4 separate regions of the Homo sapiens genome follow, and regions 2, 3 and 4 are each linked to region 1. Evidence: fine-mapped expression QTL. A gene starts in region 1. Each other region holds a variant in brackets. All regions are shown on one strand. Distances are from middle to middle. Region 1 holds the start of BCAT1 (branched chain amino acid transaminase 1). Region 2 overlaps BCAT1 (branched chain amino acid transaminase 1). Region 3 holds the start of LOC124902898. Region 4 overlaps BCAT1 (branched chain amino acid transaminase 1).

What was found. PIP is the estimated chance that this variant, and not a neighbour inherited with it, causes the effect.
Region 2: its variant is fine-mapped to the expression of BCAT1 in whole blood (TOPMed, PIP 0.97).
Region 3: its variant is fine-mapped to the expression of BCAT1 in whole blood (INTERVAL, PIP above 0.99).
Region 4: its variant is fine-mapped to the expression of BCAT1 in whole blood (TOPMed, PIP 0.97).

What each region holds. Positions count from the first base shown.
Region 1 is chr12:24,945,183-24,952,691 of GRCh38, reverse strand. It overlaps BCAT1 (branched chain amino acid transaminase 1), which reads left to right and starts at 3,591. Exons shown (of 11, transcript NM_005504.7): 1 at 3,591-3,765. The coding sequence starts at 3,760. BCAT1-DT (BCAT1 divergent transcript) reads right to left here and starts at 3,529. Exons shown (of 3, transcript NR_199054.1): 1 at 3,362-3,529. RefSeq lists enhancers at 338-407, 788-857, 3,138-3,227, 3,348-3,697.
Region 2 is chr12:24,892,225-24,899,733 of GRCh38, reverse strand. It overlaps BCAT1 (branched chain amino acid transaminase 1), which reads left to right. Exons shown (of 11, transcript NM_005504.7): 3 at 5,259-5,459. Among named protein-coding and RNA genes, the nearest start is that of BCAT1, 53 kb to the left of the region's middle. The variant C/T (reference allele first, on the strand shown) is at 2,195.
Region 3 is chr12:24,900,595-24,908,103 of GRCh38, reverse strand. BCAT1 (branched chain amino acid transaminase 1) reads left to right here. Exons shown (of 11, transcript NM_005504.7): 2 at 6,219-6,290. It overlaps LOC124902898, which reads right to left and starts at 6,134. Exons shown (of 1, transcript XM_047429951.1): 1 at 199-6,134. The coding sequence starts at 5,514. The coding sequence ends at 4,774. RefSeq lists enhancers at 2,857-3,579, 5,074-5,575. The variant C/A (reference allele first, on the strand shown) is at 4,973.
Region 4 is chr12:24,867,719-24,875,227 of GRCh38, reverse strand. All of the region lies in intron 5 of BCAT1 (branched chain amino acid transaminase 1), which reads left to right. Among named protein-coding and RNA genes, the nearest start is that of BCAT1-AS1, 52 kb to the right of the region's middle. The variant C/T (reference allele first, on the strand shown) is at 4,011.

The sequences.
Region 1 (7,509 bases):
AGACATAGCTAGATTGTTCTTATATTCTTTTTTTTTCTTTTTTTTTTTTTTTTTTTGGAGATGATGTCTCACTCTGTCACCCAGGCTGGAGTGCAGTGAAGTATGAAGTGATCACAGCTCACTGCAGCCTGGATCTCCTGGGCTCCAGTGATCCTTCCACCTCAGCCTTGGGAGTAGCTTAGACTGCAGGCACATACCACCACAAACAGCTAATTTTTGCATTTTTTGTAAAGACTGGCTTTTGCTATGTTGCCCAGGCTGGTCTTGAACTCCTGCTTTGACGTCCCAAAGTGCTGGGATTATAGGCGTGAACGCCCGGCCCTCATATTCTTCTGTGGATGTTAATTCCCTAACTTTCTCACTTCCCTTCAAGCTCTTTTTTTTTTTTTTTTTTTAAATATATACTACCTTCTCTCTTCCTTTGTTGCTAACATCAAAAGAATCCTTAAGTAGGGGTAACAGCAACAGGGTTGGAGGTGAAACTGTACCTTCAAGCCAAAAACAGCCTGAAGGCTGAAAGACCAGACTGCTGGTCCTGGATGAAATCCATGACGCAGAGTGAGAATTTCTGTTCCTGTTTGCCTGCCCCTCCCCTATTCTGAGCCGATAAAAAGCCCCAGGACTCAGCCTCATGGAGGAGACTTTCCTGCCTTCGGGTAGGGGGACCACCCCCGCTTCCCTCTCTGCTGAAAGCTGTTTCATCCCTCAGTAAAACTCCCCGCCTTGCTCACTCTTCAATTGTCAGCACATCTTCATTTTTCTTGGGCATGGGGCAAGAACTCAGGAACCAATGTGCAAGGCAAACTTGTCTCAGGCGGGCAAATTGCGTGGGGTGCCTCCTGCAGCAGGTAGTATGCCCCGAGCTAGGCCTCCGGCATTGCCGGCTAGAGGTCCTTGACTGGCAAAGGGACTGAGAAAAATCCTGCATTGAGGGAGAGGGGGGCGAGGGGCGGTCGTTGGATCTAGGAGTAATTGCCAGGCTTGCTCTAGAACTTATTAATGCATTTATATCTATGACCCCATCACTCTCTATCCCCTTATTACTCTTTCTCATAAAATTTACCACATGGTACCTGTTTTTTTTTTTTTTTTTTTTTTTTTGAGACTGAGTCTTGCTCTATTGCCCAGGCTGGAATGCAGTGGCATGATCTTGGCTCACAGCAACCTCTCTGCCTCCCAGGTTCAAGCGATTCTTGTGACTCAGCCTTGTGAGTAGCTGGGATTACAGGCACCCCGCAACCACGCCCGGCTAATTTTTAGTAGAGACGGGGTTTCACCATGTTGGCCAGGCTGGTCTCGAACTCCCGACCTCAAGTGATCTGTCTGCCTCAGCCTCCCAAAGTGCTGAGATTACAGGTGTGAGCCACCATGCCGGGCCATAGAGTAACATCTTTATTGAGATATAATTCACATAACATACAATTCACCTATTTAAAGGGTATAATTCAGTGGTTTTTAGTGTGTTCACAGGGTTGTGTAACCATTACCACAATCTAATTTGAGAACATTTTAATCAATTCAAAAAGAAATCCAACGCCCATGAACATTCACTCTGCATTCCACCCTGTCCCCAGATTGAAAACAACTATGTGTTTTCTGTCTCTATGGATTTTCCTGTTCTGCACATTTCAGATAAGTGGAATCATATAATATGTAGTCATTTGTGAGACGCTTCTTTCACTTTGCATAGTTTTCAAGGTTCATCCATGTGACTGCATGTAATCAGTACTTCATTTCTTTTTATTGCAGAATATAATAATATTCCATTGTATGGATGATACCATGTTTTATTTAGCCATTCCTCAGTTGATAAACATTTTGCTACCTGATTTAAAGCTTACTTTCTGTTTCTCACACTAGTATATGAGCTTAATGAGGGTAAGAACATTTTTGTTGTTTCCCACTCAGTCCCTAGCATTTTGCACATTGCCTGTCTCATGTCAGTGTCAGGTTCAAATCTATCTAGCTGTGCTTTCACTGACGGGGGCCAGGAGGTTTCACAAGGACTCAATGGCTGATTAAATGCTTACAGATACAGATTTCTCAGGGCAGAACTTCTGCAAGCATTTTGGCTGTGGTCAGTTACTTTCAGGTTTTCATTACTTTTTGGTTTTCACAGCATCCGCAAGTGCCCATAGCCATTATCTCAGCTGCCTCTCTCTTTACTCTCTTGCCAATGGTGCCAGGCCACAGCAGGTGTTATCTTATCACCTCAGTCCACCATACATATGCTTATCAATTTGAGGGGTCAGCAATTTCACTGGAGGCTGAAACCCTTGTCATAAATGGCTCCATTTTGAGACATTTCAGATTACAAACCACTGTTATATACCAGCCTAGCATGTAGAAATCACTCAGTACATTTATTGAACACATAATTTAACCATTCATTCACCTGACCAACAGTCATTAAGCACTGACACATTTGTTTTCAACACTCCCTCTCTTCCACGGCAGGCCACTTGGTATGGGAGATAAATATGACAAAGGATCTGCCCTTACGAATCTCATAATCCACTGAAGTGACAACTGTGCAAACAAATAATTAAAGTAAAATTAAGAAGCTGGGCACAGTCTCACATCTGTAATCCCAGCAATTTGGGAGGCGGAGGCGAGGGGATTGCTGAGGCCAGGAGTTCAAGACCAGCTTGGCCAATTTAGTGAGACCCCATCTCCATTAAAAAATGATAAAATAAAATAATTGATTTTGAGAAAGGATGTGGACAAAGTGCAGCACATAGACCAAGGGCCCAGTTCTGTTTGAGGGCATTGGAAGCAACTTCCACAGCAAAGACTTGGGTTGAAATTTACAAAAATAGGAGTTTGCCAGCTTGACAGAGAGGCAGCGGAGGTCAACCAGCAGCACACTTAAGCAGTCATGGAGGCTGACCTAGGCGCTGGACATGGAAAAGTAGCAATCCTGGAGCTTTGTATAGATGTGGGGAGGGAACTTACAGGGGACCAACTAGGCTACTGGGCAATTTCACATTATAAAGAATTTTATATGCTCAAATTAAAGGATTAAAAATTTTCCCCCATGTACATAATAAATTGGCAAAAATGGTTATATTTGAGGGTGACTAAGGAACTCTGGGAAAGAGATCGGCAAACCAGGCACATGTTCTTGACTACTGCAAAAGTACATTTAAAGTAGCCGCGGGGGATACATGTATACTTTTGGGCAGGATTGTGCCGTGGTCCTCTCAGCATGCAGCAAAGTTACTTTGGGGACAGTAGGGAGGTGGGCAGGAGCCAGTGATGACGGAATGGCAATCACATTTGACCTCTGATCTGTTTATTTCCTCCTCCTTGACGTCTCCATATAAATGTTACACGGGCATCCCCACACTCGGATACGCACCCACAGTGGCTGATTCGGGGGTAACCGTGTCATTTGCTTGCAACACTGGCACCTCTGCCCTGCACCCCGGGAGTGAGCAGTGAGTGAGGCTCGGGTCTGGGCGCTGGCTCCGAATCTTCGGGCTGGGAGAGACTCCACCATCTGGGGGCGGCCTGGGGGAGCAGCCTTAGTGTCTTCCTGCTGATGCAATCCGCTAGGTCGCGAGTCTCCGCCGCGAGAGGGCCGGTCTGCAATCCAGCCCGCCACGTGTACTCGCCGCCGCCTCGGGCACTGCCCCAGGTCTTGCTGCAGCCGGGACCGCGCTCTGCAGCCGCAGACCCGGTCCACACGGCCAGGGGCTACGACCCTTGGGATCTGCCCTCCGCTCAGCTCGAGCTTCCCTCGTGGCCGACGGAACAATGAAGGTAACTACTTATGGTTTTGTCCGTGTTTTACAAAAATGTGTGCGTGAATCGAACCGGCGATTTCTCCAAGAAACATAGTTGGCAGGGAGGGGAGGAAGGCGAGACAACCATGGCTTATATCCCCCGCAAACGTCTCAGTATCTTCTTTATCAATCGTAGTTTGCGGGGACCGTGCATTCTGTTCAGATTTCGGTTTAACCTCCACTCGCAGGACGTGCCTTCTCGGACTTTTTCACATTCGCTTTTGGGAACGGAGGTGAAAGTCTGCTACAGCTCCCTCCCCTGCTTGTGAAGTTTGGAAAGGAAGTGAGGGCTTCTCTCAGTTTCTCCTATGCACAGGAGGTGGGGAATTTTGGAGAGGAGGTCTGGGGATGTCCCGGGCTGTAAATGCGCTTTCCTGCAGCGTGTGTTCGTGATGCAGGAGGGAGCGGCTGGAAGAGTTGACCCGGGTGGAGAGGGGAGGGAGAACGATCTTTTCACTGTTAAAAGCAGAAGGCCCCTCTTATTTTGTTTCTTGTGGAAATTAAAGCTTCTAGGAGTTACAAATGATAGACGCCTAAGGGCATTCATTTGTTAAACCAGTGAGCACCCTAATGGCTCTGATCTTGCTAATCAAGGATAATTAGCCTAGCTGCCTATTATTTCTGACTATTTAGGTGTAGGGATGTACACCGTTGAGTGTTTTGTTTTCCTAGTTTCACACACTGGAAAACTGCAATCGCATATAAAACCCGAAGAGCAACTTTTTCCAAGGAAAGTGAAGGATGGGCAGATATTCTTGCCATCTAACATTTTGGAATTGAGATGACCATAATGCAATCTGAACTTCTGGTAGGAATAAAGCCTCGTTTCAGAGTTTCTAAGGAGGGAGATGAAGCGTGGTTCTCAACTGCTCTTATCTACAACCCATCCCAGACCATAGTTTCACTTAGAAGAAATAATATGTAAATAGCGCCTTTGTTGCCAAACAAAAACTTTCACTACAATTAAACAGTAACCGAGTGGAAACTATGCGTTTTTGTATTCAACAGAGATCACACAACTTTTCTTCTATAGTTAGAGGTTCTATTTCTGGCTTCCTCATGCTTGTTTCATTTCAGATGAAAAACACACTTTAGTTGATTATAGCTTTAGTAAGTAAAAGGAGAAAACTAAGAATGAACAGTCTTGCTTTTCCAGCTTTTTCCTGTCCATGTGCAGTTGTGGTTAATTACGCGTTTTTGTAGGTCCAAAAACCCCTGTCCCTTCCACAAGATACTTTTATAACATGGGGAACTAGGTAAGATATCTACAAGTAGTCTCTTTTCTGTTTCCTGATATTTCCTAAGATTAAGAAAGAAATGATTGTATTCTAGGTATGATCGAAGAAGTATGGAAGGTTCCATTAAGTTAGTTTTATCACAATATTTCAAACATCTTTCCACTTATCTCTTAAATATGTATTGCTATCACAAGCTTGATTTTTTAAAAAAATGTTATTTGCACATGGCATCTTGATTGCCTTTGTCCTCAGCAAATTCTCCGGGCTTAAGTCATGCATGAGCTTGTATTTTAAGACAGACACATGCAGAATGGGCAACTTGGATAAGAAACATAGGATATACACTGAGTAGCATGTGTACAAAAATGGTAAGTGAGTATTATGACTTAATAAATTTAGATGGGGATTTAAAAATGATACACATGTAAATGGGATTGGAGGCAAGGGAAGTCCGTGTGTGTGTGTGTGTGTGTGTGTGTGTGTGTGTGTGTGTGTGTGGAGGGAAGACGGGAGGCCTAGTGGGGAGAGAGGTTTTACATTCCAGACACAGGATGTGGCCCCTCAGGCTAGGCTCAGAGATGTAAAGCTAGTTAAGCTGGCCTAACAAAAGGGTGGTGGTTAGAAAAAGGAAAAAAAGAGGTGGGGGTTGGGGAGGAAAAGAATTTAATGCTGGCCAATATTTTCATCTGATAAGTTTCAGTAATGAGTAATTTCACTGGATTTCAGAACTACAGAGAGAAAAGGGGAAAAATATTTTTCCTTTTTTACGCAAGAATTTCTCTTGCTTTTCAGCTCATTAGAACCAGATCTAATTATTTGAAATGAGTTTAAAACCTTATTATGAAAGGAAGTTGAAAACATTCGATCACAATTGAGTTTTGTACTATGGACTAAAACCAAGATGTGCTTTCTGTCAGTAGCTGTGCAACTCCCTGAAAAAAGAAAAATAGCGCAGAGCGATCTGAGCTTTGTGAAGGCTACACAATTTATCAGGCCCAGAGAGATAGGAGTGTGAGACTTCAGTCACGTCCCCCCGTACGCATGCGCAGGAGTAATTATTTAAAGACATTTTGTTCCTGACTAACTGCCTCACTCATTATGTTCCTGGAATTTGTGATACAAAAAAACAATGTTTAGCCTATCAATAGTTTATATAGTTTATGTTATTTTAATATAAATTCTTCTCAACTTAGAAACTGCCTCTTTTTTCTTTTAAAAACCCACTTGTAACTGCTGTATATATTCAGGGCAACTTGATTTGGTGTTTCGTTGGTTGCAGTCCTCAAATTTGACCTCAATATACTCTCTACTTATATAAATTTTGTCTCAGTTTTGTCCGTAGGCTGACATTCCAATTGTTTTCCTAATTATATATTTTGTTCCTTATTTCTCATGTCTAGAAATAAAGCTAGGGAAGTAAACAGCTGGAAAACTGATAGTGGTGTTATTAACCTAACTGAGAGGGCTGGGCTTATGAGTAAATTATTCCTGTGCATAAATGAAAGATTGTTTCTAAATGGCAGCTATGTTGAGCCTTTGTATTAGTTACATCTTTTGGGGTTTCAGGTTGCCAGCTTCTTTAAATGGCCTCTTCTCAACTGGTATAGGAAGTTGGAAAATAAAGAACTTTCTTTATTTCCCTTTAGTGTTGGTAACCACAGTTTCTTTAAATAACAGATGCCCACCCCAGGGAAACCCAGTGGCATGATCAGCCTTATGCTCAGGAAGGTTTGGTTGCTATACTGGAGAGTGAGAATCTGGGACCTTCCATGATAGACATAATTGTGCCAGCTATCCTCTACTTTCTATATGATGCTATCATTCTTTTTTCTTTTCTTTTTTTTGACAGAATCTCACTGTGTTGTTCAGGCTGGAGTGCCGCAGAGTGATCTCTACTCACTGCAACCTCTGCCTCCTAGGTTCAAGCAATTCTTGTGCCTCAGCCTCCTGAGAAGCTGGGATTACCACCATGCCCAGCTAATTTTCGTATTTTTTTGTAAAGACGGAGTTTTGCCATGTTGGCCAGGCTGGTCTGGAACTCCTGGCCTCAAGCGATCTGCCCATCTCGGCCTCCCAAAGTGCTGGGATTACAGGCATGTGCTATCATTCTTTTTGAGCACAGGAGGAAACTATGGCTGATCTGCTCATTTTACTGTCAAAAATATAGGCAGCTTTTGTATTGTAACATTATCCCCTTAACAGCTGTCCAACTGGTCTATACATTTCACCTAACATATGGTAAATGTTCCTACTGTTGGCCTTTCCTGAGCCTCTGTCCATTCAACTAAGGCCACTGCAATGGGATTGTATGCAGTTCAGCCAAGAAATAAATGTGAGGTGCAACTCACATTTTTTAAATGTTTCAAAATTAAGCATTTAGGTGCTTTTATTCATAAACATGACTTTGCAAATATTGGTAAACAGTTTCATCATAAGACCTTGTCAGTGACTCACAATGTCAATGGTGAACGCAAAGGAGAATC
Region 2 (7,509 bases), 53 kb after region 1:
TCCATGTTGCTACAAATGACACGATTTTACTCTTTTTTAATGGCTGAGTAGTATTCCATTGTGTATATGCACCACATTTTATTTGTTCATTGATGGACACTTAGGTGATTCCATGTCTTGACTATTGTGAATAGTGCTGTAATAAACATGGGACTGCAGATATCCCTTTGATATACTGATTTCCTTTCCTTTGGAAAATACCCAGTAGTAGGATTGTTGGTTTATATGGTCATTCTACTTTTAGTTTTTTTTTTGGAAAGCTTCATACCATTTTCCACAGTAGATAAACTAATTTACATTCTTACCAACAGTGTATAAGCGTTCTCTTTTCTCTGTATCCTCATCAGCATCTGTTATTTTTTGTCTTTCTAATAATAACCATTCTAACTGTGGTTGCTTTTGACATATTTCTCTACCTTTTTGTTAATCTACATCATTTATAACATTTCATATGGCCTTTTGGGTCTCTCTTGGGTAGTTTTCGTATTTCTTCTCCCCTCCCCATTTATGATGCAGTCATATTACATGAGGATGCAGTTTTGCAGCAGGGCCTAGCAATGAGATACGTTGTTACACATCCTGGCGAATCTTTCTGTGGACTCTAGGATCCTCTTCATTTGCAAGAGGTCAGCCATCTATTTCTTCCAATTCCTCCAGCTTCACATATCTCCACAGAATGCAACACTGCAAATCTGCAGTTCTCTTCATGATCCTCTTTATTAGATTTTAAAAGAGTATCTCCAAAAGATGAACATAGTGCCTAAGGCTTTCCAAATGGAGTAAGAATAATGCACAAGAACCTAGAATAAAGTTATTAAATGTCTGATACAGTTGTAATACAGACTTGATTTTTGAAAAATGTGGCCAATGAAGAGAAGAGCAAATGTGCTATACGATGGTGAGCAAAAGGTGTTGACAGGCCTGGCATGGTGACTCACCCCTGTAATCCCAGCACTTTGGGAGGCTGAGGTGGGTGGATCATTTGAGGTCAGGAGTTTGAGACTAGCCTGGCCAACATGGTGAAACCCTGTTTGTATTAAAAATACAAAAATTAGCCAGGTGCGATGACACATGCCTGTAATCCCAGCTACCTGGGAGGCTGAGGCTTGAGACTTGCTTGAACCGGGGAGGCGGAGGTTGCAGCGAGCCGAGATTGTGCCACTGCACTCCAGCCTGGGCAACAGAGCAAAAAAAAAAAAAAAAAAAAAAAAAAGTGTTGACTGAACCCTGGCTGAAACAGTTTTCAGGTGCTTTCAACAAATTTACACTTCCCTGCCCTGAGCCTCCCTATTTCAGAACAAATGATTACCCAACTGCAAACTTTGAATTAGGAAGTTGTTTTTAATATGCCCTGTTTTTCTCAATATTTCTTGCCATTTCACAATCAGTTATTGTGGCATTCCAATTCTTCCACAAACATATGATGTGAAACATCCTGACTTCGATGTCATCAGGGAATGTGGAGCATTGGAAAGAGACAGATTAATTATGCAGAAGAAAGTATCATTTGACAAAATATTATTTTTATTTATCTTTGGAAAGGAAATCTAGAAAAAGAAAATACTTTTTAAAGAACACTGATAAAAATTGTTTATAAAATTTGTTTCCTTTAGGAAACAAATCGTTCCCTTAAAACTACATTTCATATCTGCCCCAAACGAGTCACATGTCTTCAGCTAATATTGCTTGTTTACGTTTGAACTTTATTCAATTCTATCACCTAGTAATTTAGTATTCTTAGGTAATTTCTCTTTGAGCTCAGGTTAAAAGTTGTTATTTTTAGTTTTCAGAGTTGCAGAATTTTTTTTTCAAGTAGAGAAAAGTTCATGATGAGATTCTGAAGCCACCTAATCGTATATTACTTTGAAAAACTGGATATATGCCGGGCGCGGTAGCTCACACCTGTAATCCCAGCACTTTCAGAGGCCGAGGTGGGTGGGTCACCTGAGGTCAGGAGTTCGAGACCAGCCTGGTCAACATGGTGAAACCCCATCTCTACCAAAAATACAAAACTTAGCCGGGTGTTGTGGCACATGCCTGTAGTCCCAGCTACTCAGGAGGCTGAAGCAGGAGAATCACTTGAACCTGGGAGGCGGAGGTTGCAGTGAGCCCAGATCACATCACTGCTCTTCCGCCTGGGTGACAGAGTGAGACTCCATCTAAAAGAAAAAGCAAAACAAAACAAAACTGGATA[C/T]AGGGCAGTGCTTAGGTACAAATCAGAAAGTTAGAGGTTGCTATTCATATCATTAAGAAATAATGTGTCTTACGAAAGAATGTAGCAGTTTACTGAAATAGAAGTCATACCTAGAAATGTAATAATTTATCTTTAATTGTCAGAAATTTAACTGATATTATGAAGTTCTAATTATAAGAACACTTATTTGAGGTTAAAAATTACCTTATTCTATCCCTGCTTTGCCGCTAATTTGATCTCTCTGGATTAGTGGGTTATTGTGGGTCCTATGGGTATTTTAAGGAGAGGTCTCAGAAAACTAAAAATTATATATACTGGATCATAATCATTCTTGTCACCCACTCTCATCTTTCTGTTTTTGTTTTGTGTTTTACTACCCTTCCCCTTTTACTAAGTAGTCTTAGTAGAAGAAAATTTGCATTAAGTTTGTCGTACTGTATTGATATGGCTCCAAATGTTTCTTAGCCCAGGGTCCTCCCCATTCACTGATAAAAGCTAACTAAGGTAAATCACAGGTGTTTATTGTGCAAGAATACTGTGAAACTATTCATGTAATAAAAAGTTTGTGTTAGAATTTCACTCTCTTTAAATCCTGGACATCTTCTGTGAGTGTATCTGAAAGCAGCCAGACATCTTCAGTATTTAAGAAACCCTTTACTATTCTGTGTGCTAGGCACTGTGTTAGCTTTGGAATTCAACTGTGAATACTCTAGCCAGACTTCTTGTCTAAATAGTCCAGAATAGGGGTTGCTAAACTTTCTTTCTTTTTTTTTGAGATGGAGTTCCACTCTTATTGCCCAGGCTGGAGTGCACTGGTGTGTCTCTGCTGACTGCAACCTCTGCCTCCCAGGTTCAAGCAGTTCTCCTGCCTCAGCCTCCCAAGTAGCTGGGATTACAGGCGCCCACCACTACACTCAGTTAATTTTTGTATTTTTAGTAGAGACAGGGTTGTGCTGTTTGCCAGGTTGATCTCAAACTCCTGACCTTTGGTGATCCACCCGCCTCGGCCTCCCAAAGTGTTGGGATTCAGGGTGTGCCACTGTGCCCGGCCTGCTAAACTTTCTTAAATGGCTAGATGATAAATATTTTAGGCTTGAGGGCCATCAGGTTTCTGTTACAACTAGTTGGCTGTGCTGCCACTGAAGATACAAGAATGGCGTGACTATGTTCCAATAACATTTTAATTTCAAAACAGGCCAGCTGGCTGCATTTGGTCTGCAAGTAAAGTCTGCCTGACCCCCTACCTAGTCCAGAGGACAACGGGAGAGAAAAGGGATTCAAAGATAAAAATAATTTAGCTGGAATATATTTCTTTAAATAAACTTATTATACTTAGTAAAAAGTCTTAAATTAACGTTTTTACTTGAATTAAATAGTGGTAAAACAGGCTGGGCACAGTGGCTCATGCCTGTAATCTTAGAACTTTGGGAGGTCGAGGCAGGCAGATTGCTTAAGCCCAGGAGTTCGAGACCAGCCTGGGCAACATAGTGAGTCCCTATCTCTAAAAAAAATACAAAATAATAATAATAATGGTAGAACAAAGTCAATTTTTTATTGAAACTTGGCATTTTATTGGCATATTACAAAGTAGCATTACTAGACTAGCCTGAACATTACAGTAATATTCTGTCCTTAATGCCTTTTGTGTCACTGTAATATGAGCTTTCTGTTTGTTTTGGAATATGTTTTCAGCCTGAATATTATTCTAAAAATACAATTTACTATCATTCATAATATATCAAATGACTCACGTAGCTGCAAGGCAGTGAATTAAACAGAATTAGATCATTTTAAAAATAATGATAAGAGCTGATGATGTAAAGTGAAGGTCTGTATTTAATTTGGGAGGGAAAAGACTTTTTTTGTATATTCAAAGAGATGGAGTTTGACATCCCTTCACAACCTGTTACAGGTTGAACTTGCCCCTGTTTTTTTAACTGATCAAAAAGTTCCTTCTCTTGTGTTTCTTTTTTTCTTCTCTTTTCTCTTCTTTTCTTTTCTTTTTTTTTTTTCTGAGACAGAGTCTTGCTCTGTCTCCCAGGCTGGAGTGCAGTGGTGCGATCTTGACTCTCTGCAACCTCCGCCTCCCGGGTTCAAGTGATTTTCCTGCCTCAGCCTCCTGAGTAGCTGCGACTACAGGTGCATGCCACCACGCCTGGCTAATTTTTAGTATTTTTAGTAGAGACGGGGTTTCACCATGTTAGCTAGGATGGTCTCAATCTCCAAACCTTGTGATCTGCATGCCTCGGCTTCCCAAAGTGCTGGTCTCCTGTGTTTTTGTCAGCATTCCACAGATGCTATAAAGTTAGTGGTGGTATCGCATGCAATTTGTACGCTTAATGTTTGGCCATTTGCAGTGGGCAAACTGGCTATGTCGGGAGCTGGTGAGATGCTGCTTGTGGGGAGTTGTTTCCTATTACTCTGATTTATCTTTGTTTAAATAAGAGTTCCTTTGTTCACTGTTTCCTCCACACAGAACAGAGGATTTATATCTTAGTGTTCATTCTCAACTTTCCTGTTTTCAAAGAGGAAAACATTTGCTTCACTTTGCTCATTTCTTCTCCAGTGCACCCAGAGGATTTTGAAGGCTTATGCCAACAATTCTTTGGGGCAGTTGGAGTGTAACCATTGCTAAATAGCAGTTCAGTACTTAATGACATTCATTTTAGTTTAACAAATCATTGTGAGTGTTGCCATTTTTTATTAGGGAAAACATCTCTTTCATCTTTCCCAAATACTCAACATGAGTCCTATGGTGAGAGTGAAAAAGGGTTGTATTCTTTTTTTGCATCATCTTACCCCATCTGCTATTTTGTCCCTCTTCTATATATCACTGAAATTTGGTTCTGATATTCTATTAGGCAGTGTACATTGCAGAGATTATGAATAACTGGCCGAATTCTGAATGCAGGCATGATTTGTTCAGCTCAGAGTGTTAAATTTCTGTGTTAGCTGCTAACCTTTAAAAGTCAATTGATTTCCTTTTTTTTTTTCCCCTCTGTATAATCTAGCCAGCGAATGCTCAGTAGCTTTTCTGTAAATAGTGATGATTTTTCTTCCCCAGGCTAAAGACCTAATAGTCACACCAGCTACCATTTTAAAGGAAAAACCAGACCCCAATAATCTGGTTTTTGGAACTGTGTTCACGGATCATATGCTGACGGTGGAGTGGTCCTCAGAGTTTGGATGGGAGAAACCTCATATCAAGCCTCTTCAGAACCTGTCATTGCACCCTGGCTCATCAGCTTTGCACTATGCAGTGGAAGTAAGTACATGGGAATTAAAGAGAGTGACATGCTTGCACTTCACTGTGGGTACTAAGTAGCTTCTCCTGCTAAAATAGCTCTTGGGCAGTATGGGCTTTATCATATTTACCAGAGGAAGCCGAAAATGTCTTTAAAAGTTTTCCTATAGACAGTTGGATTGAAGATAAATCTTAGCAGCTAATTTTTCAGATAATCTTGCATTTTCTGTGACGTCAATAAAAAAATTATTTAAAGCAAATAGAAAGGACAGCTGGTGGGAAAATTGGCAATTAAAAAGCCAGCACTGTTGATAATTTAATAAGTCACCTTTCTTCTTAGATCTTCTAATAATTGAGAAAGGGTCATTGAGAACAATATTATGATTTGATTTTAATGCTAACTCCACATTTTTATGACCAGTAATAATGTCTAGTTATGCATGTTAAGGGACATGTAATTAAATGTCCTCCTTCAGCCATGAGTTGAAATAATTTTAAGCATAAAATGTTTAAAGAATTCTTTCTCTGGTCCTTTTCAGGGTGCACAATTAACCAGATGCACAGTATACTTCCCATTGTCTTGATTCTCATTGTATTTTACTTTTGAATGATTTGGACATCTTTCCCAGAATAATAGGGGTGCTGGAAATAATAATAGTCTTCCTATTAAGTGCTAAAATATGGTAATAGTAAAATATTAATAGATTAATGATAAAATAACAACTTTTGTTTACTGAATTCCTGCAATACGTTCTGTATTATGTTCCATATATGAATCATCTCATTTAATTACCTTAAGTGAGAAGGCATGTGATTAAGCATTCAGGCTTTGAAGTCAGACATCCTGGGCTCAAATTCGGTCTCATTTGCTCCATAGGAACCTTTATGACTTGAGGAATTTAATCATTTGTGCTTTAATTTCTTTATCTATAAAATTGGGGTAGTTATAATATCTATCTTACAGTGATCTCATAAGTATAAAATAAAGTAATTTATCTAAGCATATAGAGTCATATCTGGTGCATAGCGAGAGCCCAGTTGTTAGCAATAATAATTAACTCTTGAAGCAGTGGTCTCATCCATTATAAAAGGAGGCTCAGAAGAGTTGTTTCTTGACTAATATTACACAGCAGTAAGGGTGGAGCTAAGGTTCCAATGAGAAGCTTCTTTCTGTTATATAGCCCCTACATGTATACACCAAAATTACTAGGATGCTTTTGCAATTAACTCCTTCAAAATTATAAATTCATATAATTTTGGAAAGATATTCACTGTCCATATGTATCCACAAAATGTTGAATTTAGGAATCTAAGTTTCTGTTCCCAGCTCTTCCTGTTATGTCAATTTGAATGAGTTCTTTCATTATTTGCCACAAGCCCTCACCATGTCATAAGGTATAATAAAGAACAGGTGAAATGAAGTGCTTTTATTTATTTATTTTTCAGACAGATTCTTGCTCTGTCACCCAGGCTGGAGTGCAGTGGCACGATCGTGGCTCACTGCAGCCTCAAACTCCTGGGCTCAAGCAAACCTCGTACCTCAGCCTCCTGAGTAGCTGGGACCACAGACACATGTCACCATGTCTGGCTAATTTTTACATATTTTGTTGAGACTGGGTTTTGCCATGTTGCCCAGGCTGGTCTCAAACTCCTGGGCTCAAGCAATCCTCTTGCCTTGGCTTCTTCAAGTGCTGGGATGACAGCCATGAGCCACTGCTCCTGGCTATGTGCTTTTAAATTTGAAAGGAATAATATGCCCAAGCCCAGGTCACTGGTTCTCAAACTTAATGTGCATCAGAATCAGCTGGCTACATCTCCAGAGTTTCTCATTTCTAACAAGTGTCCAGATCATGTTAATTTTGTCGCTCCAGGGACCACATTTTGGGAATTGCTGGCCTATGGGAAGTAAATGAGAAATGATTTAATGTCATTTTTGGAAGTTAAAAAAGATTTTGGTGGTCACTGGTTTTTGAAAACTCTTTGAAGGCTGGGTGGGGTGGTTCACATCTGTAATTTCAGCAGTTTCGGGGAGATGGGGTTCTTGGGAAATGAGCCCTCCACCCATGGGATC
Region 3 (7,509 bases), 45 kb after region 1:
TTAGTCTATTATATTCTAAACTTTGGCAGTTAAAATTCCAAAGTATATTAAGTACATGCTTTCTAAAATATTAGAGAGCTGCAGTTCAACAGATTTTTAACTCTCCACAGCATGTCCGGCACTGGGTGAGGTGGGATGGCTAGGTGAATAATATAGGCATTGTCATGTGTGTTCGTGTGAAGAGACCACCAAACAGGCTTTGTGTGAGCAATAAAGCTTTTTAATCACCTGGGTACAGGCGGGCCGAGTCTGAAAAGAGAGTCAGCAAAGGGTGGTGGGATTATAATTAGTTCTTAGAGGTTTGGGATAGGCGGTGGAGTAGGAACAATTTTTTGTGGGCAGGGGATGGATCTTACAAAGTACATTCTCAAGGGCGAGGAGAATATTACAAAGTACCTTAAGGGCAGGGAAGGATATTACAAAGTACCTTCTCAAGGGTGGGGAGGGTGTATCATACAAAGTGCATTCACAAGGGTGGGGAAATATCACAAAGTACATTATCGCAAGGGCAGGGAGGGTGTATTGTCACAAAGTCAATTGATCGGTTAGGGTGGGGCAGGAACAAATCACAACAGTGGAATGTCATCAGTTAAGGCAGGAACCTGCTATTTTCACTTTTGTTGATCTTCAGTTGCTTCAGGCCATCTGGATGTATACGTGCAGGTCACAGGGGATATGATGGATTAGCTTGGGCTCAGAGGCCTGACAGACATGAACTTCCCATCATAAAATTAGAAGAGCATTAATCAAATGATTAGAATAAAATATTACCATTATTTTGAAATGGCAAGCATTGTATGTAAATAAACAGCAGAGGAACCCACTGTAGCCTAGACAGGGTTCAGAGACGTTCCTGCCAAGGACATGGCACAGGGACTGAACAAGGAAGGATGACAGTGCCTGGCAAAGGCAGGGAATGTTACAGGTATTTGGGCACCTGTGAGAAGGCCTGATGTCCGAAAGGACTGAAATAAATTAAATGTGTGGGGGGAGAGAGAAAGAAAGAGCCTAGCAAAAGGTGAGCTGGAGAGTCAGAGGCAGAAGGCAGAATCTGGGATGGGCTGGGAGCTTGCCAATCATTTTGTCAAATGGGTGATGTGAAGCCTTGAAGGTTTTTTGACCAAGAGGAGATGTCTTCAGATTTGCGTTTGAGACATTTTCACTGGTTGTCATGCTAAGAATGGCTTAAAGAGAAGCAAGGCTGGGGTCAGAGGAGCTGCTTGGAAGCTGTTTGGTACTAGGATGCGGATAACATGGTTGGAGAAATGGCAACTGTCAGGGTATTTGGAGCAAGAATGGATAGACATTGGTGATCATCACTTGGATGCATTTGAGGGACAACTGCTATGTTTCTACTAGAGCAACTACATAGAGCAGGAGTAAGCAACTTACAGTCCACAGACCACATTTGCTCTGTCCCGTTTTTCAAATACAGTTTAATGGAAACAGAGCCATGCCCGTTCTTTCACCTATTCTGCATGGCTGACATCAGGCATGGTTCTAAGTAATATACATAAGTTTCATATATTAATGCTCATCTATCCCAGTTGACAAACATGAAGTGTTGCTATTGTCTCATTTTACAGCGGAGAAAACTGACATAGAGATTCTCTTTCGCACCCATAGCTTCAGTTACCACCTCTATGCCAATGATTCAATAATACCTCTAATCCAGACCTCTTCTCTGAGCTTCAGACAGGCAGATCTCTCACAGCCAGTCTTGGAGACACTTCAGAAATCATAGGTCCCAAACCAGACTCCTCCTCATCCCCTCAAACACATTCTTTTTCAACATTCCTTTTTTCTTAGTGAACATCACCAAATAGATAAGCAAGTCAGATCCAAGGAGGCCTCCTTGGCACTTCTCTCATCCTTGTCCCACCTTATATCATCTATTTTTCTTTTTCTTTTTTTTTGAGATGGTGTCTCACTGTGTCACCCAGGCAAGTGCAGTGGTGTGATCCTGGCCCACTGCAGCCTCAACCTCACCAAGTTCAGGTAATCCTCTCACCTTAATCCCGTGAGTAGCTGGGACTACAGGCACATGCCACCGAGCCCGGCTAATTTTTGTATTTTTACCAGAGACAGGGTTTTGCCATGTTGCCCAGGCTGCCACCTTATCTCCATTCTTGCTGAAATCTGGCTGTTTCTCTCCACTTCTATTACCAACCACCAGCCAAATCTGACTTATTAAAAGGATCATCTCGTATGTGGGTTCTGTAATAGCTTCTTCAAAATCCATTCCTCTCCACCCAGACCCTCTTCCAATCTCCAAACTGCAGCCAATACCTTCAATTCTGTCACCGCTCCTGCATACTCCACCTAATCCTTAACCTTTCAATGGTTTCTCTTGCCCCTAGGTTAAGCTAAATTGAAAACTGCTAAAGCTACAGCTTCTTAGTGTAACTAGTAAGTACAGTGACTACTATGTCTGGTTTACTTCAGCTGTTGCTGACTAATAGCACTTCTTGAATGAAGAAATTATATTACCGTACTGTAGGGAAAAATTTGTACTTCAATGGAAAACTGAATTATTTAGAGCAAACCTTTAAGGTTATCTGATTCTGATTCCATGGGCCCTTTCATTGGGTCTTACATTGTTTCATTGTTTTTGAGTTATTTTACAGATGACTGATAGAAATGCAAAATAATTATTGCATGCAGTCATGCAAGTAAAATCTGAAGGTCAGGGTTCAATTAACTTCTCTCCCCTACTGTGGAAGAAGCCAATTTCATTTGCATATTCATTTCAATATTTCTGACCTATAAACATGCCTGTTCTTTGAACCAGTTTTTATATCTGCCTGGTAACTTCATTAAATGATTTAAATAAACTCTATAATTTAGTTTATTTTATACCTGTATGACAGTCAGGCTTTTACCTTATTTTTGCTTTTTAAAATTATTCTTTAGCTCTCCCTAAGGCACTACTTGGCTGGCCCTTTGGCTACTCACTAGCCCAAGCTCCATCCTCTTCTGTCTACCGCAGCCCCAGGCTCTCTTTTGGCCCTTTGTTCCAGCCCTCCTCAGAGAAGTTCTTTTGTCCTGGAACTCACTTTCATACCAGGTGCTCTTCATCCCTTCTTCCTTTAGTAAATTTCTTTAATCTTTCAGATTTCTGCTCAAGGATCACTTGCTGAAAGCCTTTCCAGGCCTTTCTGAGTCAATACAATCCATTATTAGAGGCTCTTAGAGCACAGGCAGCACTTGTTATAATTTTACATCTGTCTGTGGGATTCCTTAACACTTTCTAACACAATTAACACTTTTCTCTCTGGCTGGGGGCAATGCATGATAACAGGATGATGGTATGCTCTCAACCCTCCCCCAGCAACTAGCCCAGTGCTTCGAACATGGTGGATAGATACACCGTTTTTATTTTAGACAGATTTTTGAGTAGCAAGTACCTACTGCTCAGGAGACAGATGGACTGAAAAAATATATTTGGGAGTCATCAGCACATAGGTGCAGCCATGAAAATGCACGAGAAGCAAAACCATTGGCAGGAACAAAATGAAGGCTATTAGAGACCTTATTTAGGTGGAATAATTGGACAGAAGCCCTTAATGGGGAGGAAATAGAAGCAGTTAATACAGATGGAGGCCGGGCGCCGTGGCTCACGCCTGTAATCCTAGCACTTTGGGAGGCTGAGATAGGTGGGTGGCTTGAGTCCAGGAGTTTGAGAGCAGCCTGGGCAACATAGCAAAACCCGGTCTCTACAAAAAATACAAAAATTAGCCCGGCGTGGTGGCGCAGGCCTGTAGTCCCGGCTACTGGGGAGGCTGAGATGGGAGAATTGCTTGAACCGGGGAGGCGGATGTTGCAATTAGACGAGATCGCGCCACTGCACTCCAGCCTGGGCGACAGAGCGAGACTCCGTCTCAAAACAACAAGGACAAAACTTATCTTATAAGCGACCCTGGACTTCCAGGGACACTCGCCGCTCTATGGTGGTACGTGACCTGCCTGGACTCTGTGGTCTTTGGAGCTTGGGACCCCACCCCAGCGTAAGAGGCCTTTCTGTGCCTTGTATAAAGGAGAGGAAAAGTGTAGGTTTTCTGAGTTGATAAGATTAGAGCTACAGTATATTATCAGTAGCGTTGTATGAAACCATTTAAAAAACCAAACCGGATTTAACCGCTTTCACCCAGAATAAACTGCCCTCCCCCTCTTTCCAAGATCAAGTCAGCCCCAGTTACCACTTCCTATTAATTTAAAAACCAGGAAGGCTCATAATTTAGGCTGACGTTGCCCCAGGCGAACACTGCATATAAGACAATAGCTATTCCAATCCTCCTTTCCCTTTCTAAACCGAATAGTACTTCTAACATCACTTTTCCAGTCCTCTTTCTAAATATTGCGATCACGAGCCTACATCGGAAAACTATGAAAACAGTATGATTGGAGCTCTTGATGGTCTGCTTTGCCTGAAAACGATGAAAGGCATTGAGATCTTTGGGCAGAAATGGCCCTTAGGGAATGCGAGCCTGGTAGCCCCATAACACCCCGAGTTACAAATTCGGTTTGGGTAGGTGGCGCAGGGAAATCTAAAAGCTGGATTCACGTTCTCCCCCTTCAGTTTGCACATAGCGGTCAGTGGCAGACAAGAGCAGACGCACAAATGTCAATCCCCGCCCGCAAACTCTCGAGGGCAGAAACTGCTTTTTGTCAGTTGGATTTGGAGTCGGTGGAAAAGCTGCCCTAATGTAGTTTCTCCGAGGTTTCCTTAGCCTTGACCGAGGGGCGCTTCCCGGCCATTCACCTAGAGGTTGTTTAATAAACAAGGATGCTCGCGAAATATCTGCGCTTGGAAAGGCGCTCGTTCGTGGCGCGCATTCTCGGGCCTCCGCAAGCGACCCCGGTGACAGGGACAACCGCTTCGGTTTTAGCGACTGCAGACAGACTGGGACGAGACGGTTGGAGGCTCCTCCCCAAGGGATGCTGGAGGGGTTGCGTCGTACCCTGCGCCTGG[C/A]CCTGGCGCGCGGCCCCAGGTCGTGGTACCCAGCGCCCTATGGGCCGTGCGCCGGGGCTTGGCCACACCGCCTGCTTTCGCTTCCAGCCGCGCGCTCCGTGCCACTGCCGCTCTCTGCAGCCCCGCGTCCCCGCAGCCTCCCCATGGCCAGCCCGCTTCGCTCCGCTGCGGCCCTTGCCCGCCAGGTACCTCGAACCCGGGCGTTTGCGGAAGGGGGGAGGATTGGAACCCGGGTCTCGGTAGCTCGCGGGCCTGGCCGGGCGCCTTGTCGCCGTTTCCTGCACCATCCTCCTTCGCCTTGCCCTCCATTCCGCCTCCAGCGAGGCGTCTTCCCTTCCCCGCATCCCTGCCCGAAATCTGGAGTCCCAGCCTGCAATCTCCACCTCTTCGAGGTTCCCGCTGCCCAGGTCTAGCACCCTCATGGGTAACCCGCTCCGGAGCGTGGCGAGGACCGCCACGGGGGACGTGAGGGTAGCTATGGACTCGCTCTGAGGGAGGAGGCGGGAGCTGAATCTCTGGGCTGCCAGAACCCACAGCCACATCCTACGTGACTCTGCCACCCCAAAATATTTTGACCGCAGCCTTCTGCCTCCTTGGATCTCTTCCTTCCCCACCCCCACCCCCGTAGTTATTTAGCAGATTACGCATTAAAACAAATGTCTGCAGGTTTTCCCAATTAGTCCCGCTTCCCTGTGTCTTTATCTTTTAAATTGCCCACTAATACCATGAGGTTTAAGGTGTGGGGTGGATGCTGCGGCATCGGAGGACCCTGCTGGTGGAGGAAATGGTTCACGCCCGTCCCCGTTCCCTTTGCAGGCTTGCTATTGTGCGTCTGTGATTGACAAGACCACGAGGCTGAGCGCGCCCTGGAGATTTTTCTATAAATGGCTTAACACCCCAGTCTAGACTATTTGCTCGGATATAAGGGAGACAATTGTTTTTTTGTTCTTTGCCGGCGAACCCTGGCTCTGTAGGGCTGACCTGGAATTTAACCAGTCTTCCCTGAGCCGGCGGAGGAGGACAAAAACCGCCGCGACCCCGGCAGGGTGGGAAGTGCAGGGCAGCGCTCCCAAGACACGCTTGTTGGAGGTTCGGGCCTGGGTGCTTGGTTGTCTGAGCCTCCTTTTTTGTGTTTGCCTGGGTCCTGGAGAGGAGCGCACGGTATCATGGTGAGCGTCACGTAGGTTACCCCGGGTCCCGCTTACCCACCTGCATTTACTTAATGGTGGTTTAATTCTTCTTTAAGGATTGCAGTAACGGATGCTCCGCAGAGTGTACCGGAGAAGGAGGATCAAAAGAGGTGGTGGGGACTTTTAAGGTAAGTTGCTTGCCAGAGGCTTAGTGTCTAAAGCAACGTTCAACTGAATAAATCCATTTCTTGTTGAGATTCGGGGAAATTTTCACTGTGTGGGTTACCCAGTTCCTAGGTTGTGTTGCCAGACTTTTAAAATTCCACTCTTAGAGGAAAAAAAGCCATTTAGAGAGTGACAGTACATTCATCACAACAAAAATTATCTAGCAGCTAATTGCTGATTTTATTTTGAGTCATATATTTTTCTTGAAAAATAGTCAATGCGTAAATATTAAACTAGTTGTTTATCAGATTCCATAATACGTACAAACCTTCAGTCTACTTGTAGAAAAAGTTAAACTGTGATTTTTCTCTTTCAGTAGCACATAACACTCTACAGTGAAAGTGTTGCATTTTCTTCTTTTCTATCTGAATTGCGGGGTTTATATAGTAAATAGCTCATACTTCAAACAGTGAGAAACAAAGCACGTTGAAAACTGTACAAATACAAATGTAAGATGTAATATTATTTTTTCTATAAGTCTATCTCCTACCCTCCCTCCTCGTGGAGGTTTTAGCTTCTTCTTTTTATGCCTAGTGCTGCTCTTCTGCCTGTTTGAGTCACTGTCAATTGTCATCAGACAATTGACACAGAGTGTCCTAATGATCTCACATCCTGGCGGTTCAGAGAGGGAAGGAAACTTGACTCATCAGTTTCTCACACATTGAGCTCTCTCACAGTGTGCTGGAGACTGTGCCATGCATTGGACATCCAAAGGTGAATTCAAGATTAGGTCTCTACTTGCAAGGAATTTTTATTTTATTTTTCTTTTTCCTTCTCTTGCTGTCATCTTAGCAAGGATTTTTTAAAAAGCAAAATTAGAATATTGCAATTTCTTTTCTGTTTTTTGAGACAGGGTCTCGCTCTGTCACCCAGGCTGGAGTGCAGTGGCACGATCTCAGCTCACTGCAATCTCTGCCTCCCAGGTTCAAGTGATTCTCCTGCCTCAGCCTCCTGAGTAGCTGAGATTACAGGCATGTGCCATCACGCCCAGCTAATTTTGTATTTTTAGTAGAGATGGGGTTATCACCATGTTAGCCAGGCTGGTCTCGAACTCCTGGCCTCATGCAATCCACCTCCCAAAGTGCTGGGATTGCAGGCGTGAGCCACCAAGCCTAGCCTGAAGAATTCTTTGCAAAGAAAAATATCAACTCAAATTTAAATAATCTTTTCCTTTCTTTTTCT
Region 4 (7,509 bases), 77 kb after region 1:
CATTCATTAGGTTTTCGTGGTGGCTACATTTGATATGTGAAGTACTGGCTGGAAGACTGGTGCCAGTAGCTTCAGGTTTGCTGGGATTCTTTCATCAGAGATGACTAGCTTTACTTATCTTTTTATGTTGCATGTTTCTATGATGGGCCTATCCTGTCATTGTCTTCATAGTATAATTGCAAGCTCAACTCTGTCAGTTATGTGATTTTTTTTTTTTTTTTGGTCCTGTCTTGCTTTTGGCTGACTTCTATATGTTTTTATTTCATGTCCTTTTCATAGTTAGATTAACTGGGTCTTATGTCCAAGAGATATTTTGATTTCTTTGAATGAATAAATCTATGTTAGGCTACTGTATTAGGTTTTATAGACACCTAGTTGATCACTTGTGTCCAGTCTCTATTCCCTGGTATGGTAGTTGCTGTGTTTATAGAACATTGAGGATTCTACAATGGACACATTGGTGTTGGGCCCCAGCCCAGACCCAAATCGAAATTTCTAGAGCCAGGATCAGAGACTCTGCATTCAACAAACTCTCCAGAGATTTCATAACCACTTTTAAAGGACTCACCATCCCAAACCTTGTTAAGGAATGAAATATATGTCTGCCAGTAATTTCAGTGCTTTAAGTCATTGAAAGCTGAACTTTTAATGGCACCAAAGTGGAAATATTTATATAATTGAAAGCTAAACTTCATCCTAATGGCAGTGTTGAGTTCACTTCCATAGGCCCTGATATAACAGTCTAATATTATTGTTTTTCACATAAAATAAGATTCAGTCACTGCCATATAATTAGGGAGTGGCTCTGCTATTGGATGGACTTAAAATATTTCATTATGTTTGCCAAGCTCTGTCTCTTTACATGTTTTATAATTAACTGATCCTTCATTTTTATTTTGTTTTATTTTATTTTTGAGATAGAGTCTCGCTTGGTTGCCCAGGCTGGAGTGCAATGGTGCAATCTTGGCTCATTGCAACCTCTGCTTCCCAGGTTCAAGTGATTCTCCTGCCTCAGCCTCCTGATTAGCGGGGACTACAGGTGCGTGCCACCATGCCCAGCTAATTTTTGTACTTTTAGTAGAGACGGGGTTTCACCATGTTGGCCAGGCTGGTCCCAAACTCCTGACCTCAGGTGTTCTGCCCACCTCGGCCTCCCAAAGTGCTGGATTACAGGCATGAGCCACCATGCCCGGCCTCCTTCATTTTTAATAATCTTCATAGATACATACTTGTTGTACTAATGTTTTTGTGCAGTTCCTCATGATAAATAATTAAATCAATTACTAAAATCCTTATAGATTTATGATGATAATAAATGGAAGTGTGTATTATTGAAACATGTTTAATTAACTGTTCATATATAACCAGTGAGTAGGGATTGGCAATTAAAAATACCAGGCTACCAGTGCATGGAAATTTGAAGAAAACAACAACCTGAAATTCAGAATACTCCAAAATCTGAAACTTTTTGAGCACTGACATGACTAAAAATGCTCATTGGAGCATTTCAGATTTCATTTTTTCAGATTAGGGATGCTGAATTGGTAAGCATAATGCAGATTAATCCAAAATCTGAAAAAAATCCTAAATCAAAAACAGTTTTGGTCAGAAGCTTTGTGGATAAGGGATAGTCCAAGCTTTTTGGACTGAAGCTTTTTGGATAAGGTATAGCCTATAATACATAAATACATAATACAGGATAATCACTGACCTGAATGTATAGCATCAGTATGGTACACAAATATTTAAATCCATGTACTTTGTTGGATATTATGTTATATAAACTTCTTGTAAAAAGTTTAGAGAGTAAAATCATTCACATTACCAAAAGATTTCTCATATTTATAAAAAGGATTATAGCAGCATTTTAATCAGTATCTCCTAAAGTATTTATTTATGGGTTGTTAAATCTAAAAGAGAAACTACAGTCTGGAGGGCTCTAAACTACTGCTGATTACATATCAGTTGGGAATTAAGAGAAAATCTCAGATCATAATATTTAAATAAAAACATTTACATGAATGATTTCTAAGTTTTCACTTTACTAGACAAGAAACTAAAATTATATGACTGTCATGTTCAATATTGGATACTTAACAACACTACATCCAAGGAAGCCAGGTTTTGCTGATTTTAACCTCGTCCTGTTGAGTAACTCCATGCAGGTACAGTGGTACAAACACATGTGGACACACAGACCCAGACCTTTATTTCCTCGGGGATTCTGGTAAGTGTAGAGGTGTCTTGACCATAGTCAATAGCAGAAATATGCACAACCACAAGCTCTGAAATTCCATTTGATTGTTGCTCTTAGCCTTCCACTTTTTAGGCATATGTCAGTCCCATTTCATCCCACCCACTCTCTCCATTTGGGAGGTGGTAGAGTGAGACAATACTGAACTATACCAGGGCTGAGAATAAGTGTCTTTGAAAAGGGTCGAATCTGTGATGCTAGAGACAGCCCTGGAAACTGTCAGGAGTTAGCCCAACCAGGACTGTGACCAGATCCCAGGCTGTCCACCACAGATTTGCAGGCTACCTGCAGATGTGACTTTTTCAAATGTACTCAAAGACAAGCTGACTTTGGCTAATGCAGAAATTAATTAATTCCTCTTTTTCAGTAAACTTTATCCTCCTACACTTAGATTGTCTGTAAGTACATCTCTGGAGTTGAGCTCAACTAGAAAGAAGCTGTCTGCATTTAGTTAATACCAGCATTGGATGCACACAATATAATTTGAATAATGTAGAGCAACATTTTAATCATCTCTCATAAGCAGTTTCCCCATTTGCAACTTCCTGGGAAATCTTACATTATGAAATGTTCATTAGAACTCCCATTTTAAAACCCTGCTGCCATTTTGTGAGTGGGCAGAAGAAAGGCTGGAGATGAGATTTGTCTGTCTCAAATGATTCACTCCTTCATTTCTGGTTCACTCCACAGGGAGCTTAAGGACATGTGCGTTTCATAGACATGCCTTTCTTTTCCTTTTATCACCTTGTTAAATCTTAAGATTGAACATACAATTCAGCCTGTAATCATATCAATTCCCATGAAAAATATTTTCCTTATTCACTGCCTCTATTTGTGCTTATACATCTGATCATCTTTTTCCTTTACTTTACAATTAGTTTCTATGAACAGAAGAATCTGAAAGATTTAAAGACTAGTTAGCACAGCAGCAATTTATAAATCATTAATTTGGGTACTGTCTATACATTTAATGTGTTCTTTTTCATAGTCCTATGTGAAATACATATACATATATATATATTCCACTGTTTATAAACAATATTCAGTTTTATTTGCATAACTCAATATATTTTATATTAACAGCTCCGTTTTTAGTGTCTTAAGACATCGAGTCTGTTTTTAGAGATACAGTCTATTTGCCTTGATTTTAGCCTGTTATAATCAGCTTATTATTATCTGGCCACTCTTACCAGTGAGTATCATCTTGAGGCTGTTCTTGCTCATTTCAACTTGTCACAGGGGATGTTTTTTACTCTTTGGAGTTTAGGTACACCAGGTTATTAATTATGCTCCTGATTCATGGTACTTCCATCATGGGGCATATAAGGTCCCTGTCTTTGTTTTATTCCCTTCTATCTTCATTCACCACTCTCATTTCCTCTCTCTCCACTAGAAATAATTCTCAGGAATCAAATTAATATTATTCTGGCTTATATGTGTTTTTAAAAATCTCATCGCTTTTTATACATGTAATTTTAATTTATGTAAGAGACTTTGTCCTACAGATTTCATTGTGTTTCTTCTCTTTTTCGCCCAGCACTGTGTGTTCCATTTCTATCCAGTCTACTATGTGTACATCAAGTCCATCATTTCTAACTGTTGCATAGTTCATGATGCGAGGCATCTTCCACATTGTATCCCAATTCCCTAACTGGAATCCCAGTTCCCTGCTACCTCACACAATGCTCCAGTGAACAGCTGGAAAATCATACAACCCAAGGAATTATTGAAAGTGATTATATCCCAGCAAAAGGCC[C/T]AGGCCCATCTTACACTTCCACCCCAAGAAGGTACTGCTACTTTTCGGGAATGGCCTGGTCTCCTTGGCGAAATTGGCATTTGATCTGTTCTCATCACTGTCGTCTGGCATCAGAAGTGACCCCACTTGTCAGGCACTGTACTCAGTGCTTTCCATGCACTAACTCTGATAACAATCTTTTTTTTTTCTTTTTTTGAGACAGAGTCTTGCTCTGTTGCCCAGGCTGGAGTGCAGTTGTGTGATCTCAGCTCACTGCAACCTCCACCTCCCAAATTCAAGCGATTCTCCTGCCTCAGCCTCCCCAGTAGCTGGGACTACAGGCGTGCACCACTACACCTGGCTAATTTTTGTATTTTTAGTAGAGATGGGGTTTCACCATGTTGGCCAGGCTGGTCTTGAAATCCTGACCTCAGGTGATCCACTTGACCTCCCAAAGTGCTGGAATTGCAGGCAAGAGCCACTGAGCTTGGCCTGATAACAATCTTGTGAGCAGGTGCTTATGCAGTATTTTAGGGATGTGAAAGTAAGGTCCAAAGCGGTGAAATAAGAGCCTGTATTCTCTTAACCTCCATCCCGCAACATCTTTTATGTGTCAGTCCCTGCACTAAGTCTAGGGATACTGTGCTGAGCAAAAACTATCTTCTTGCTTTCACAGAGCTCAGTGTCTGGCAGGGGGTCAGACTTTCATAATATAAACCCACTAAATGAGTGCATATTGATGGCGGTCACTGCTGTGAAGAAGTGGGAATGGTTAGCATGGAAACATAGCCCCAATGGGGGCGACTAAGTTCTTTCCCATCTCATTCTACTATGTCTACTTTCATCTCTACTTTTTTCTTTTCTGAGCTATCAGCTTTCTTGCTCTCAACTATATTTGATGTATTTAACCAGATTTTATATATTGTATTATGTATTTTATAACATGTATATATATCATATAACATACACATATACATACATACACACAGCCAATTAAGTCTCAAGTTCAATTACAATGCTTCTAAGTTTAGGACTATTCATTTTCATTTTGGCAGAGAAATTATCTGGTAAAAAATTCAAGTAGAACCAAAGGTATACAATAGATGGGAAGTTTCCTTTTCACTCTCACACTCTCATTTCCATCCAGGGTTCTACAATTCATCTCCTTCCAAGCAATTCCTATTGCCAGCTTTTCTTATACCCTTTCAGAAATACACACACACACACACACACATATATACACACACACACACACACCCTTACATGTGTTTGTACATTATCTCTCTTTTTACAAAATTGGCAGTGATTCTTTGTCCTGTTTCTGCCACTACTCAAAAATTTTAAAACAAATTACACACCTATAAACATACAATTTAAAGAAAAGAGTGAAAGTGAAAATCTAAGGACCCAGCACATGGTTAAGATGAGAGCATGATGGGTTCAATGGAAAGCCTTTGTGTACCTTTCTCCTTTGCCTCCGTTCCCTCTCCAATAGAGTCAACCACGTTGGAGGTTATAGCACTTCCTTCTTTATGTCCCCCCATCTCCCATCTGGTATGGTATTCTCTTTTACTGCAGATGGACATTTTGGCAGACATATGTAGTTGCTTCTCTTTGGTATTTACCTAGGAGTTGAAGTGCTGGGTCACAGGGTGTATGTATATTTCACTTTAGTAGATACTGCTGTTGTAGGACTTTCTCCTTAGTTTAGCTAAAGATGGGGTCCTTGTCCCAAGGCCATGAAAAATTAGGCTCGCAGACAATTTGAAAGGTGAGAATAATGGAACTTATTGGGAAAAAAGGGAAACAGGGACTCCCCACAAAGCCAGGGTCCTGCTAGCATGCTTCCTGCCTTGCAGATTGAATCCCAGGTACCACCCAGGAAGAGGAGGGGCCAGGCTCCTCCCCACTGTGAATGGTGTGACCGTCTGTGGCTCCCCAGTGTGCACTCCTCCCAGTGTGCAGGCCGGTTGGAGTTTCTCTGGGGTCTTCTTCCCACTTGGCTGTCTCACTGCCAAACTCCCAAAGTGCTTATACCAGTTTACTCTCCCATCAGTGGTGTATGTATTTGCTTCATTTCTTTGCCAATACTGATACTGTCTTATTAACTTTCCTCATTCTAATGTATACAGTCTTGTGTTATTTGTGGTTTAATTTCCCTGAGAACCAATTATGTTGAGTACCTTTTCATAGGTTTACCAGCTACAGAAGTCCTCTTGTGAAGTGCCTTTGCAAGTCTTTTGTCTTTTTAATTTTTTGCATCTTTGTATATTCTAGGTATAAATCCTTTGATACATATATCACAAATAACTTCCTAGTCTATGGCAAATCCTATGTTGGATAAACGTACTGCAAATAGTTTCCCAGTCTGTGGCTAGCTTCTGTGTCTGTGTCTTGCTTTGTCACTTTCTTACTGATATCTTTTGATGAACAGAAGTACTTAGTTTTAAAGTAGTTAAAGTTTTCTTTATGTTTTATACTTTTTATGCATTTTAAAGAAATTTTTTGTTACTCCAAGGTCATACAGGTTAAATAAATTCTTACTCCAAGAACATTCTTTTAAAGTTTTGCTTTTTTTCATTTAAATGAAATCCATATGAAAGTGAACTTTGTTATCAAGTAACATATACAATTTCTTTTATTTTTCTGCACGGAGACCAAGTTGTCCCATCACCATTTATTGAGTGGTCTATCCTTTCCTCACTGATTACAGTGCCAGTTTTGATATGTCATGTTTCCATAGATGAAGAATATTTTGGGGCTCTCTATCTGTACCTTCCTTTTTAAAAAATATAAATAGTGGTGATACTATGAACAATTTTGTTTGTATTATTGTTTTTTGCACTTAAAATTTGTCTTGGAGATCTTTTCATTTTGGCACATACGGATACACCCCTATTTTTTTTTCCATTTTCCTAGATGTGGGGTATCCATTGGACATATGTACCGTACTGAATTTAATATAGAATGTCATAAATTACAAGATGTAACATTATTTTATACACTGAGATGGAGAATCAAACTGCAACGCAGTACTTCCCTGATCATCCTGAGTGATTCATGAGTTAGTTATACTAGCCTCTTATTTCTTTGAGGTGTACGTTTTCTGAGGGAATCTGCCATTTCTCCTGCCATGAGTTGCATTGCTTGGCTCGTGATAGGCATTTTTATTTTTGCATGTAATTTTGTAACAAATGCTAACACTGCTTTATCTTCTTTTTGTTTTTGTTTATTGAGACGGAGTCTTGCTCTGTTTCCCAGGCTGGAGTGCAGTGGTGCAATCTCGGCTCACTGCAACCTCTGTCTCCCAGGTTCAAGCGATTCTCCTGCCTCAGCCTCCTGAGTAGCTGGGATTACAGGCATGTGCCACCATGCTCGGCTACTTTTTGTATTTTTTGTAGAGATGGGGTTTCACCATGTTGGTCAGGCTTGTCTTGAACTCCTGACCTCAGGTGATCTGCCCCACTCAGCCTCCCAAAGTGCTGGGATTACAGGTGTGAGCCACCAGCCAGCTTTATCT